2 linked regions of the Homo sapiens genome follow. The protein of the gene in region 2 purifies or fractionates together with the protein of the main gene of each other region. This does not show direct contact. Each region holds a gene or a part of one and is shown on either strand. Other genes may lie near its edges.

Region 1 (7,033 bases), on a different chromosome or scaffold from region 2:
GTGTTGGTGTGGGATGGGAGGAAGGGAAATGGACCCATCGCAGCACTAGCTCTTGGGGGCTCTCTGTGACCTTGACTAGCTACTTCCTCTCCTTTTCCTCAGTCTCTCCTCCCAAACCCCCAATATGACAGTTCCTAGAAGATGTAAAGTGCTGTGCACAAGCAGACAATGTGACCGCTAACGGGAAGACTTGGTTCTTCCCGGACAATGGTTTTCCTACCTGAGTGTACTAGGAACTACCTACAGTGACTGTTAAAAATGCTGATTGCTGGCCCCATCCCAGAGACGGAATAAGGATTCCTTATGTGTGAGGTGGGGCCTAGGAAGCTGCATTTTCTGCATCTTTGACAAGACACCCACCCACCCCACCAGCCCCTTTCAAAAATTCTGACACAGGTGGGTGTTCTTAAGGCGCACAGAGCAGGGCTTGTCACACCATTATCTCCTGAAAAGCTGCTTAAAACAAGAGTCTGGGATTCGGTAGTGTTGGGATCAGTCTGAAAATGTGCATTTCCAAGCTCCCAGATGATGCTGATGGTAGCACTCAGGTACCATCAGCTTTGAGGAAGGCTGTTCTAAACAGTGTTGAAAACCTAAATAATTTAAGGTTGCAGGGGTTGGAATTAAGAAAGTTTACTCTTGACCATAAGAAGGCCTCATATTCAAGTGGCATTGGGGTGAATCCAGATTGGAAAAAACAACATCTGAATCTCTATCCCTTTGTTTCCTGGTGTCTGATAACTCCTTGGTACGGTGAAGCTTCAGAGGCCCAGAACCAACACTTCTCTCCATTCCTGCATCCTCCAAGGGTCCTGTCAACTGCTTTCCAGGGCTGGGGGTCCTTTTCTGGTCTTCAGACTCCCCCAGGACTGAATCTCCCCTGCCCAGCCTGAATTACAGCCCTTCACCCAGACAGATACACCTGGCCCCCAGCTGAGGCAATGTCCCTAAACACCACCTTGCAAGGTGGCCCTATGCATTAAACCTGTCATTCCACTTAACAATTAATTCTAAGGAAATCATCTGAAATGCAGATCTGTTACTTTATCCTTCCTTCTGTCTGACCCAAGGTGTTAGAGGCAGGGTTATTTATAATTGCAAAGACAGGGAGGCAGGGAACCAGTTAACGAAACAGTAATACAGGTACAAAATGAAATATCAAGTGGCCACTAGGAATGATATTCTCAAGGGGTATCTAATAACATAAGAAAAGTAGATGAAGGGAATGGAAATAATGGAATATAAAACATACAGACATTATGACAACTATTTACAACACATAATCTCTGTGTGTTATGTGTAAAAAATGATGGGAAGAAAACACATTTTAATTTTAACAGTGGTCTCTCTGAGTCTGGCCACCCTAGGCTTCTACTTTTTATATTTCCCAAATATTACTTTTACAAGAAAAAAATTCAACTATTTAATTTTTTTAACAAAACACACAGCTTTCTCCTCTTTTGAGGCTCATACCTACCTGATTCTGGCCCATCCCATGACAGAGGTACAGAATGACCTGGTGTCCCACAATCTGGTTTTCATCGGGAGGGTTATAGTCAAAGCAGTAGTCTGTTAGTCCTTTGTTCTGGAGCTAAATAAAACATAAATGTGGCATTTCAGTCCAGATTTATAGACACTAACAGATGCCACACAAGGCTTGGGGAGGGTACCTGGCATGAGAGGAGAGCCTGCTTCAAGAGCTAGACGCAAAGGTAAGAGTCTTTTCTGTACAGCACCTTCTAGCTTTAAAAGTGCTTCCTTGTTCTGCAGGCAAGAATCCTTACCCCTATTTTAAGTTGATAAGCCTGAGGACCAGAGAGATAAACTCTTCATGGCCTGAAAGCTCCTCTCTCTTTCTTTCTCATTAGTAGCAGCCTTACTGCTGTGCAAGTCCAAATATACCTGGGTTGATACCTCGAACTAGATTAATTAAGCTAACTAAATCAAGCAGGCGATAGACACAAAGAAAGAATTATTTTAGGCTGGGTTCAGTGGCTCATGCCTGTGATCCCAGCACTTTGGGAGACGGAGGCAGGTGGATCACTTGAGGCCAGGAGTTCTAGACCAGCCTGGCCAACACGGCAAAACCGCATCTCTACTAAAAATACAAAACTTAGCCAGGTGTGGTGGGGTGCACCTGTAGTACCAGCTACTTGGGAGACTGAGGCGGGAGAATCACTTGAACCCAGAAGACGGAGGTTGCAGTGAGCTGAGATCATGCCACTGCACTCCAGCCTGGGCAATAAGGCAAGACTCTGTCCTCCCCACCACCAAAAAAAAAAAAAGAATTAATTTAAATCACTTTAGAGCATGGTATGTTTGAAAATACCACCTATGAAATATATTCTATAAACAAACTGAGCTGCAAAGAAATTATAAACCTCATTCAGTATAATACTCTAAGCTGTAGTACTGTATTAATTATCTTGAAACTATTTTCAATATATTTTAGGATAAAGAAAATAAGTAATTATGTTAATATTGTTTAAAACCAAGATTTTCAGGGTAAGAAAAAAGAAATATGAGTATGCTATCAAAGAAAATTTTTCAAGACTACATTGGATTTTCAGATATTAATATAAGCTCATGATCTGTTTCTCAAAAATACGAATTTCCTTTCTCTGCCCAATGAGAAAAATTTAGAGCTGTGCTATTTCATGTGGCGGCCACTGGCCACTGTGGCTACTGGACACTTGAAATGTAACTAATCCAAATTGAGATATGCTATAAGTATAAAATTCACACCAGATTTCAAGGCTTAGTATGAAAAAAGAATGTAAAATGCCTCAATGAATAAATACTTATATTAATTATATGTTGAAATGATATTATTTGGGATATACTGAGTTAAACATTTCATTAACTTTACTTTTTTTTTAATATGGTTACTAAAAAAATTTAAGTTACAACGGTGGCTCTCATTATATTTCTGTTAAACTGCATGGTCTGGAGGCAATGACAACGCATAGCAACGGGCACCGCCAGCATCCAGACTGACTCCCAATACCGTTACCCAACAAAGGAGCAGGGCTTCTGGGAGGAATGGCAGGAAATGTTTAAAACTCGAATGGGACAACTTGGCCAGAATCAAGGAGGCTATCAACGCCACTGTAAGGTGTCAAAGACCTCAGAAGCCAAAATAAAGGGACTCCCACTGGCCAAAAACAATTTTCATATATTTTTTAAAAAGATGAATTGGGCTGGGCACAGTGGCTCATACCTGTAATCCCAGCACTTTGGGAGGCCTTGGCAGGAGAAATGCTTGAGCTCAGGAGTTCAAGACCAGCCTGGGCAACATAGCGAGACCTTAGTCTTTACTAAAAATAAAAATAAAAAATTAGCCAGGTGTGGTGGTGCTCACCTGTAGTCCCAGCTACTTAAGAAGCTGAGGTGGGAGGATCACTTGAGCCCAGTGATCCAGGCTACAGTGAGCTACAATGGTGCCACTGTGCTCCAGCCTGGGTGACAGAATAGAAGCCTGTCTCAAAAAACAATACAAAGAAGAAAAGATGAATTGATTGAAGCACACCGGCTATTTAAACACCCATTAGTTTACAATGACACTCAAGAAGAGAAAAAGCCAAAAAAAACAATGAGCCACAACAAAAAAAAAAACAACCCAGTAGATACAACTGGAGGAAACTAAAATACCAACTCTTACTCTGAAAATAAGCAAATAAAGAAAAGACTTAAGAATTTGTTATGCCTTGGCCGGGCATGGTGGCTCATGCCTGTAATCCCAATAGTTTGGGAGGCTGAGGCAGGCAGATCACCTGAGGTCAGTAGTTCAAGACCAGCCTGGCCAACATAGTGAAACCCCGTCTCTGCTAAAAATACAAAAAAAAAAAATTAGCCAGGCATGGTGGCAGGTGCCTATAATCCCAGCTACTCGGGAGGCTGAGGCAGGAGAATTGCTTGAACCCATGAGGCAGAGGTTGCAGTGAGCTGAGAGCGCGCCATTGCACTCCAGCCTGGGGGACAAGAGCAAGACTTTTCTCTCAAAAAAAAAAAAAAGAATTTGTCGTGCCTTTTCTGTATGAATTCTAAAACTCACATATACCAAATTGCTTTAGTTAATGAGGGAGTGTTCTTCTTTATGAAAAATTTCAGCTAATAAATGTGGAAGAAATGAAAGAGAAAAATCACCATTTGGCAACTCCATTTGAAATAATGGGCCTAGGCAATGGTTATCAGTGGCTACTAAAAACATGAGACAGAGGCTGATGGGGGTCTTATAATGACTGGTCCAGGTGAGGGATACTCCATTAACCCACTGGTCAACCTTATCACTAAAGATGACCATACTTCCTATGCTCCTGATATGACACAACATGAACACATAACATCACCCACAAAGTGTTCTTGCCAAAAAGGTGGATCCTGACTCTAATCAAACCTTTAGAACTCACTTCTATCTTAAAGAAATATGGGGGAGAGAGGCACAACTTGAAGACACCACAAAGAAAAAAATAGCAATTGCAAGAGTGAGACACTCCACAGGTAACATATTGTTTTTTCAACAAGTTAAAGATATTAACAAGAAAAAGGAAGAGGGCTGCCTTAGATTAAAAGAGATTTAGGAGACAAGACACAACCATCACATGCAATGTGTGCACCTTGTTTGGATCCCAATTCGAATTAGCCAGCCACTCAAAGAGAAACTGGAAAAGTTGGGGGAATATGTATTAGAACTAGACATTAAATGATACCAAGAAATACTTGTTCATTTCTACGGTTTTGTAAGATAATGTCCAAATGTTATGAAAATGCATAAAATGCAGAGGAGAGAAATGACACAATGCCCGGGATTTGCTTAAAAAGAGGAAAATGTGGAGGTGAAGTACAGGAGAGAGAAAGAGATAAAGAGAGGCAGGATCTTGAAAATTCTAGAATCTCAGGGATGGTATTCATTATACCATTCTCATACCATTCTCTCTGCATTTCTATATGTTTGAATATTTTCATAATGAAAATAGAATGTAACATGAATATCCTGCTTTATATGTATCAAAGACTTCTAGAATGGAACACCAGCACTTCTGATCAACACATCACAGCAGAGGAGACCTTGCTAAGCTGGTGTCATTCCCAGCAAAAACAAAAGACACTGGACATTTTATCTGGTCTCATCCCAAAAACATTTTTTAGGTTTTTTGAAATACTCGAAGTGACTCCCCTATACCCACTATTGCCTCTGTAGACTTCCAAACTTGGAATTATTAACTAGTCCAGCCATTGAGACTAGAAGTAATATGATAAGGCGTTGGTAAAAACTAGGACATGGAAACACCAGATAAGCCTCAGTTTCCTTACCTACAAAATAGTTGTCAATTTTGAGATGGCTTCCAGCTCTGACATTCTGCACCTACGGCCCAGACGCTCACAGGGAGAAAGAAGGGCAGTGGATAAAAAGGTGGTGGGGGGTGGGCAGGCGGGTGGGAGTGGAGGAAGCCAGTGCTCCCCATGACGTGGCCTTTCTTGCCCAGGATTTGCAGAGCAGACCCAGAGGCCAGGGAAGTCCCTGCCTGCCGTGGGCCCACCACCCTCACTCACCATCCCGAAGAAGCCAGGCCTGTCCTCAGGCACATGCAGTTCTGGATACACAGTCTCCAAGAACCACTTGAAGTCTTTACACTGGAGCTTGTCCCGGAGCTGCTTCCTCTCTGTCACATCCCCAAAAGGTTCCTGAGAAAACAACAAAACAGTGAGACCCCATGGGTCCTAGTGCTTCCTTTCAAAGCCCCTGTGTTCACTGATGCTCACTTACTAACCACCAGCCAGCTTTGATGGAGCATTCGTCGCATGCCAGGCCCTGTGTGGAGCACAGAGGATAGAAAACATCCTTGCACCTAATTCTAGCTTCTAGTATGAGAGGCTGTCACACAGACAATTCCATTCCTAGGTGCTCTGTTGGCAGGGGGGTGTGACCAGGTGCACAAGGGTAGAGGACAACCCGCCTGCTGATGGAGTGAAGGAGCCAAGCCCTGGGGCTGCACTGGCATCTATGGATCCCGGACCTGTGACCCATGCTTGTGATCAGAAGTCATCCTGAAACCCAACCAGGGAAATGTCAGTTTCACCGAAACATATGCCATGACTTTCTGGTTTACTACTAATATCTGAATATCCACTTTCAAACACAGGTAAATATTCTAGATGTAATCATGTTCTCAGTATGAAATAAGCAAAAAGAAATACTTATGCAAGTTTGGTTTTATGGGCAAAACTAATGACTGAGAGCTTTTGAATAATTAAATACAGCAAGCCTCTATTTAGTATCGCAAATGTGCAGCCACAAGAAAAATGCTGAGTGCAGAAATATTACCGTACCTGCACTGTCATGTTAAACAATTAAAAGCTGACAAGTTAAATATTGAACAAAATGGTAATAATAAGTACATGTTTGAATAAGATTTCAGATTTCTGCTATTTCCCAGAGTTCTTTCACTGGTGAAAGTCACTGCGCCCCCAGCTTCAGCCAAGTATCCATTTAGCACTTGGCCTTGGACATGAAGCCTAAGGGTGCATTCAGTGCCCCCCTAAAATATTCTCTGGGAACCCTCAGGAAAAGGGAACTATGGGTTCCAGACTGTGCATGAGGAAAGAGTGGGTGTTTCTACTCTATGGTGCTGGGCAAGACGGAGGAGGCAGAAGCAAATGACCATGGAGCCCAGAGCCAGAGAGGGGCTGAGTGGGAGTCCAGCTGAGAACCCATGGGCTCTGCAGAGCAGAGCAAGAGGTGCGCTGCAGAGTACAGGCCCCAAGCCCAGTTCTACCTCCTATCAGCCACAGGGCCTGGACAAGTTCCTTCCAACAGCGTCTCTCTGAGCTTCAGTTTTCTCATCTATAAAATGAGAATTTTATTGCTACCCTGCAGGGTTGCTGGAAGGACTCAGAAGAGACTTCCATGAAGTGGCCTGATGAGAAGCCTTAGAGCAAGACCTTCTTGTATTGCCAAGCAGCCCTACTAGTTATGCAAATGCAGGGCAAGCAGGCACCCTGCCATGGAGCATGCAGAGCTGGCTGGGGCAGA
Region 2 (7,843 bases):
AATATGTTAAGTAAAAAAACCCAGTAAGGTGTGAGTGGTACGTCCCATGGTGGGAGGAGTATGGATAAGCAGGCACATATTTATAAAGCAACAGTGTCTATGGAAGGCCATATAAACTGAAAACTTCAGCCATCTCTGGGGAGGAGGTTAGGGAGACAGGAGACTTGGGGCCAGGGTAGGAGGGACATTTTTCTCTATATACTCTTTTGTATTGCTAGAACTTTTGAATTTTTCTCTCATCTGCATTAATTATCTTTTCCCAAAATTGAGCAGGATTCTCTCTACACCTTCCTCTGGGTCTAAGAGGCTGTGACTCTACCTCTGTCAGACCCAACCAGTGCCTCCTATATTGCAGGGGCATCTGCATTTGGCCCTATATTGCCCCCAAATGATCTTTCCAAAATTCTTTCAGCCCAAGTCCCTGACCTCCTTTAAATCCTCTAGTAGCTCTCCATTGTCCTTACCTGATCCAGCTATGATTAACCTCTTCCCTCCTCCCCAAGGACAGTGGATTCCTTCCACCACCAAGTTTGCTTGTGCTGCTCCCTCTTGCCTATGTGTGCAGTCCACCACGCGCAAACTCCTATGCATCCTTCATGATCCGAAGGCCCCCCCGTCCCAGGAAAGCTTTCCCAAATCACCCAGGCAGGGGATGCTCCCTACACAGCCTGGCAGAGGCTCTGCAAATACACGGCCAAAATTCAAATCTTGACTATTCCCTCATTTGCCCACTGTTTGGCCTCAGTTTCCAACCCTGTAGAGTAGGAATAAGCCCTTTTATGACTGTTGAAAAGACTGAGGGAATTCATGGAAAACATTACATAGCTTGTCACAAGGCAAATAAAAAATAGCTATTATTATTATCACAATCTTATAGCACCTGTGATGTATTTATATCCACCTGTCCTACATTAGACTCTGAGTTCCTCAAAGGTTAAGGACTGACTTCCTCACTTTTGTATCCCAAGCAATTCACCTGGCAAAGGGAAGACACATGAATGTACTGAAGTCAGAGGGGTGGTTTTTCTGGTTCTGTATTTCACCCAGATGTTAAGTGGCTAAACAGAGAACAGGCCCCGGGATCCCACCATGCCTTACAATGCACGGTATCAGCCAGGTCACTTTGAGCAGGCAGAGGTGAAAAGAGACTGAAGGGCTTTTAGTCTTTCAGAGACAGTTTTTTGGAGGCCAGTGGGATATGGGACCTACCAGTTCCCACCTGCTGACTGCTTATGGGGGCTGGGTGGGATGGACATGGGGAAGCCGGGAATCAGAAATACTAAAAGTCCTGGGCATGTACTCCAAGCAGGCCTTCAAAACACGAAAAAATCTCTTGGGAAGTGGATACCGGGAAATAAACAGAGCCTAGGCATAAGAGAGAAGAGATTGGAAAGAATCTACAAGACAACTTGGAGGATTCTCCCACCACGGGAGATAGAAAGGTGGGCAAGACACAGCTCCTGCCCGCAAGAAGCTTCTCAAATGAGAAGAACTTTAAAAGAAAAAGTGGAGCTTGGCAGGTAAAGGTGGGGAAGAAAGAGGATCACATAAAACAAAAACATCCCAACATGTGAGGGGGCAGTCAAGCAGCTCTGAATACTAGCCAGCAAGCGGGATGAGGGGAAGGAGAATTGGAGGATCCGATTAGGCTAAAAGTAAAGGAGTAAATTGAGGCAAGATTGTCAAGGGCTTTGTATGACCTGATAAGGCATTTTAGGCTTCATTCATCCCATGGGAAAAAGAAAAGCGAGGGAGTTTTTAAGTAAACAAGTGACAGCATCAGATCTGTTTCTGAAAGGAGTGGCCAGGCAGGAAGATGTTCGCCCTTTCCTAGTCAGTCCTCCTCTCGCCCACCATCTTCTGTTTCTCAGGCTGCCTGCACAGCTAGCAGGTGGCAAACGAAGCCATCTCCAGGGTGATGTGGACTGGTTCTAGAGCCGGAATCCCTCTCCTGAGCAAAGGCTTCTGATGGCGTTCACCCTGCAGAGGGTGGATTTGCACATTCTTCTTTTCCTGTCTTACAAATATCATCAGTGATCTCAAAAATAAAAACGAAACCCTCAAGACAGGACTCTGCTCTGCTATTTTTTTTTTTTAATCTTCAGGAGATATAATTAGTAACTAATTTTTTCAAAAAAAATTTTTTATTTACCGAAAGTAAAAAGGGAGGGGACCTGCGTTCTCAATTGGCCTATTCTGAATTCTGGGCAGCTCTCAGCCCTTATTTCCCTTCTTAAACAGCCTCAACAGTTGGGAGAGGGCGGCAAGGAGAGGGGCCTGGGAGACGGGCCGGGGGACCGAGGGAGGTGGACTTGAAGGGAAAGAAAAGTTGGTCACTGCAAAAGCAAATTTTCTCATGCCAAGAGTTTTCCTCTTTCCTCCCATTAAATGGACCTGAGCAAATTCTGTTCTCGCCGTTCTAAGTTTCTTCTCTGAGAATCAACTCTGGCAGTGCCCTGGCCTGGTCCCAGAAGGACGCATGCAAAGTTCCTGGGCAGTCGCGAGGGGTCGGCACTCGGGCCGGCACGTTTCCGGGGACCCCCTCCCCGCGACGGACCCGCAAGGATGCACAATCAACCTGCAGGCGCCCGCAGGCTTCTACCCGGAAAAGATGGCTTAGGGCTTCGGGCTCCGGGCTCTGGGCTGTGGCCCGGGACCCCTCCCACCGCCCCCGGGAGCCGCTCCCCCTTCCGGAGCCCACCCGGGCGCAGCGGCCGCGAACACTCACAGAGTCGGGCGTTGGGCGGGACCGCTGGGGACGAGGACAGCGGCTCCGCCTCGGCTCCGCGGCGGCGTTTCGGGCCGCCACTAGCCCTCAGGGCCGCCGCCCGGCCCGCGGCTCCGAGCCCCGCGGCGGCGGCGGCGGCCTCGCCTCCATGGCGAGGGGAAGCGGCTGAGGGGCGACTGGGCGGGCGACAGTGATGGCGGCAGCGGCCGGGGTCCGAGCGCGATCGCGCGCGCGCGCGTCTCTGTCAGCGCCGCACTCGCCGCAGCCTCGCTCCCGACCCGGCCTTGGCTGTAAGACGCGTGTTCATTGGCTGTTCAGAGACAGGCGCTGGTTGGCCGACAGCGAACGGGCGTCTCCGGCCCGCGCGGGCCCCGCCCTTGCGCTCCGCTGGGCGCTCACTTGCCGGCTGGGGCGCCGAACCCGGTCGCACGTTCTCCTGGTAGCTCCAGAGGGGTTCGCCCCGGGGCTGCCCAGTCCTTCGGGAAGCTGGACCCCGGAAGGACCGGCTGCGAGTGCACCAGTGCCTTCAGCCATTCTACAGTCACAGGCCTCATGACTTGGGCCTTCTTCCCAGTTTACAGATCAGGAAACCGAGGCCAGGCACAAACTACACCAATGTCTAGCCACCAGGGCGGCCTGCAACTCGAGAGCCATCTTCCTAACCCTCTCCAAACGTGATACTGTGGGTCTTTTTTTTCCCTCCCCTAATTGCTGCAAAGAACGACGGATCTCACTGGGGAGGGAGAGGAACCTGCCAAGTCCCTAGAACGGATCTGGCTCCGTGGGTGTCGTCTTATATCAAGTCAGCCCACGCCGTCCCCACCCGAGCTCCAGGGTAATCTCCCCCGCTTTCCAGATGCGCATGCTGGGGCCCCGCTCGCCACCGAGCTGAGTAGAAGCACAACACATGGTGCTCTGCGATGGAGGTGCCTTTTGCGATACGCCTGGCGGGGGAGGGGAGGCTCAAAACGCAGAGAGGAGCCAGAGTGCGCCCTCCCCCGGCCGGGGTTGGGGCGCGTACCCCCTTCCCGGCGCTCCCGGCACGGCGTCTGGTGCGTGACACCCGCGAAGCAATCGCTCAGTCCATCCAGCGGCAGCAGGTTCCTACACGGATCCCCGCGGGTGCTGCAGGACCTGAGCGTCTGCGGCTGAAAGCCGATTACGCAGTCGAGATAGGTGGTGGCAAATGCGACATTTCGCCGGGTTGTGATCCCCAGTAGGGACCCCTGGACATTCCGAGACCCGCGCAGGGCGAGCGGCTGGGCGTCTGCAGGCAAAAGACAGATTGCACAGTAGCGCACAAACCGAGCTTGCGGGTAGGGGACGCTTTATCCCAGACCCAGAGTCTGCGGTTCCCGGGGTAGGTGGCGGCGAGTCTCTCCTCCAGACCGGGCAACCCCTGAGTCCCCCTCACGCACCCCAGGCCGGAAGGAGTCCCACATTCGGGGCGCCCCCGGGGAAGGGTTGTGACCGGCGGCAACTCTTCATGGCAGGAAACACTGCGGCGCAAAAGGGGCTCCCAGCAGCCCCCACCATCTCCAGTCCTACCATCTCCGGTCCCCACCACCGCCTTCTGTTGGGGCGCCAGTTAGGGACTCTGTGCCCCACTCCTCCGTATTGTGGGCTCACATCAGCAGCCCCTACCATCTCCAGTCCTACCATCTCCGGTCCCCACCACCGCCTTCTGTTGGGGCGCCAGTTAGGGACTCTGTGCCCCACTCCTCCGTATTGTGGAATAAGTTAGTCCATGCTAACCAGAGCCAGGGCCTGGGAATATGGGTGGGGCGGGCCTCAGGCCGTCCCCTCCCCAGCAGGGAAGTCTCTCCTTGAGTGGGAGTTGTGACTCTCTCTCCCTCTCAGCAGGGCCAGCCTAGAGGTGAGGGTGAAATGGCCGAACCCGACACCTCTGACCAATAGACACTCCAGCCCAAAGGCCCAGAGTCCACACGCCTACTCTCCTAACGCTCAGACCCCAGTGAGGGTGGATCCTTCCCCACGCCCAACATTCACATATCCCCTTAAGTCCAAACTCAATCTATCCCGCAACACCGAATGGAAAAGTGAAAAGCAGGAAGTCAAAGTGTGAAAACCCCTAACAAGTAATGACTGCAAACGCAGGAGGTACCTCAGTAGCTGGGATAGCAGCCCTATGCTCTAGAACCAAACCCCACCAGCTTACTTTTGCCTTATATCTAATTTACACTATTATTTCTTAATATGTTTCTTTTTGTTGATTAGTTTTTTTTTACTTTTTATTTGTATTACCCTAGAAGGGGTTGACATGCTACTTATATTTTTAATATAACTGAAATAGTGATTGCAGTAAGTGTTCATCTTTGAGATTATCTGAAGGACCCCTTTTGGATATGACCACACTTGGAAAAATTGTTGTTGGGCGTGGTAGTCAAAGAGCCCGGGGTTTCCAGCCCCACCATGTGCTGGGTGACCTGAGCCTCCCTCTGCAACTCTTCCTGGAACTTCCCAGGGCTGTATTGAGAATTAGGCATGTTCAGCTTGGCAAGTAACCCATTCTCAGGAAATGAAAGTTCTTTCTCTCCCCATGAGACAGCTGCACTATGGTCAAAGCATTTGTGGGGTGTGCACAGGGGTGACAGAACTACAGACCAAGGAGAACTACAGACCCTGGAGACCCTGGGAAGGAGGGTTCAGCTCAGCAACCACACAGATGCTGTTTCCATTGGAAGAAGACAGAGCCCCCTCCTCAGCTGCCTGCCTGTAGAGACCTGCCCAGCCCTCCATCCTACTTGGCTCCCAGAGTGTCCTGAGCTCCCTCGCCCATCATCATCACAGAGTAAAGGGTTATCCTGGAAGAGAAGAGAACTGAGGAAGGGAAAGGAGGCAGTTTCCTGTGCCCAAGCCTACCCAAATGGGGGACTGCAGAGCCCTCCTACTCCTAGTCCTGCATTAGTCCCAACCCACAGGAGCACATACCTACAGGTAGGCATTTCGCAGCCACCCCACAGGTGCCCCAACAGTCACAGGGTTTATGAGCAAAGGAGAGGATCAGGAGAGCTGGAGGATGGGGGGAAAGGACTCCTGTTTCTTTAGGCAAGTCATTTCCCCTCTCGGGGCCTCCTTTCCCCTTCTAGTAAATGGAACAATGAGTCATTCTCGCAACAAATACTTATTGAGTGCAGACCATGTGCTGGACACAGCAGGGAATAAGACAGAAGAGGACAGAAGAGGCCTCTGCTCTCAGGAGCTTACATTCTGGATAGGAACACAGACAATAAACAAAAGAACAAGAAAATTTCCTAAATGCTGAAATGAAAATAAAGCAAGGCAATAAGATAGAAAGGTGAAGTAAATGAGAGCCAAGTCCCTTTGCAGGCCACACTGTTCAAACCCGAGTTTTTTTTTTCTTTTTTTTGAGACGGAGTTTTTGCTCTTGTTGCCCAGGCTTGAGTGCAATGGCACGATCTCGGCTCACTGCAACCTCTGCCTCCCGGGTTCAAGCGATTCTCCTGCCTCAGCCTCCCGAGTAGCTGGGATTACAGGCATGCGCCACCACGCCTGGCTAATTTTGTATTTTTAGTAGAGACAGGGTTTCACCATGTTGGCCAGGCTGGTCTTGAACTCCTGACCTCAGGCGATCTGCCTGCCTCAGCCTCCCAAAATGCTGGGATTACAGGGGTGAACCACTGCGCCTGGCCAACCCCAAGAGTCTTTCACTGGAACTTTGTATCTAAGAGACTGGACATACAGCCCCTTACCCTGAGAAGGTGAGTTGTAGGAGCCTTTGCTCGATATATATATATATATTTTTAAGACAGAGTTTCACTCATTGCCCAGGCTGGAGTGCAATGGCGCCATTTCAGCTCACTGCAACCTCCACCTCCTGGGTTCAAGCAATCAAGCGATTCTCCTGCCTCAGCCTCCCAAGTAGCTGGGATTACAGGACCCGCCACCACCCCCAGCTAATTTTTTTGTATTTTTACTAGAGACAGGGTTTCACCATGTTGGCCAGGCTGGTCTCAAACTCCTGACCCCAGGTGATCCACCCACCTAAGCCTCCCAAAGTGCTGGAATTACAGGCATGAGCCACTGCGCCCAGCCTTTGCCCTGATTCTCCCTGCACTGGCTACCACTGATACAAGAAGAAATGTTCCCAGATTCTTTGCCTCCAGCTACACAGTCCTAGTTCCTAGCCCCAATCCTAGCGTCATACATTGGACGAAACTTGGCCCTGCCCACCCATGTAGGCATAGGCCTGCTGTACAAACTGCTCAGGGCAGAAGGCATCTCACACTAATTTCAATTGAGTAAGCAAGGATTTGAAAAAAGAAAATCCCAGTTCTGGTTTTTAAATGTCACAATTCATAGGCTTATACATCTGTCAAAACTTAGAAAATTACATTTAAGATCTGTGGATTGCAATGTATGTAGATTTTGCCTGAAAAGAAAAAAAAAATTGCAAACCAAAAATGAACTCTAGTTATTGAAATGCATACTGAAGTATTTAGGGGGAGGTGTACTGATGTCTGCAACTTACTTTGAAATATATGAAAAATACGATGGATTGACATAGAGGAATGGATAGATGAACAGATGTGTGATATAGTAAGATGCTAATGGTAGAATCCAGTGGTAGTTACACAAATGTTCACTGTAAAATTATTTCTACCTGGCTGTATGTTTGAAAGTTTTTATAATAAACTGTGGAGGTGGGGGGCAAATCAGTGATTAACTTTACAAAAAAGTATACAAAACTGCCTTTTTAAAGCAACTCTCCCCATAGACAATTCCAATGCTTCTCTACATGCACACACACCTTTTATAAAGTTGAAATCACTGTTGATATACATTTGTCATCAGTTAAAAGTTATTTCTCACATATTTCTAAAACTTCATATGTACAGTGTTTGTTTACATAGCCTATGAGTAAATATACTGTATGTTACTTTGGAGATGTGGGTTTTGTATTGTGTACATTCTAAAAGCACTGGTCAAGCCTCCCTTTCCAGAGAGGAAAACTGGGTTGTTTGATAGCAATCCTTTTTCATTGAGAACTCGAAAAGCTGGGAAAACATTTTTTAAAGGCATCAAAGAGCTACCAGGGCAGTGAGGAATTGTGGGGCCAAGACTGGGGACAAA

Evidence for each region.
Region 1: the proteins of PTPRA (region 2) and GALNT12 purify together in Homo sapiens (affinity purification with mass spectrometry; 2 studies listed by BioGRID and IntAct, with this or other methods). This does not show direct contact.

The regions. Positions count from the first base shown.
Region 1 is NC_000009.12:98,838,654-98,845,686, reverse strand, and holds part of GALNT12 (polypeptide N-acetylgalactosaminyltransferase 12), read right to left. Parts: intron 5,686-7,033; coding exon 5,554-5,685; intron 1,592-5,553; coding exon 1,478-1,591; intron 1-1,477. UniProt on the Homo sapiens protein: Catalyzes the initial reaction in O-linked oligosaccharide biosynthesis, the transfer of an N-acetyl-D-galactosamine residue to a serine or threonine residue on the protein receptor.
Region 2 is NC_000020.11:2,868,646-2,876,488, reverse strand, and holds the start of PTPRA (receptor-type tyrosine-protein phosphatase alpha isoform 1 precursor), read right to left. Parts: upstream 3,009-7,843; 5' UTR 2,729-3,008; intron 1-2,728. UniProt on the Homo sapiens protein: Tyrosine protein phosphatase which is involved in integrin-mediated focal adhesion formation.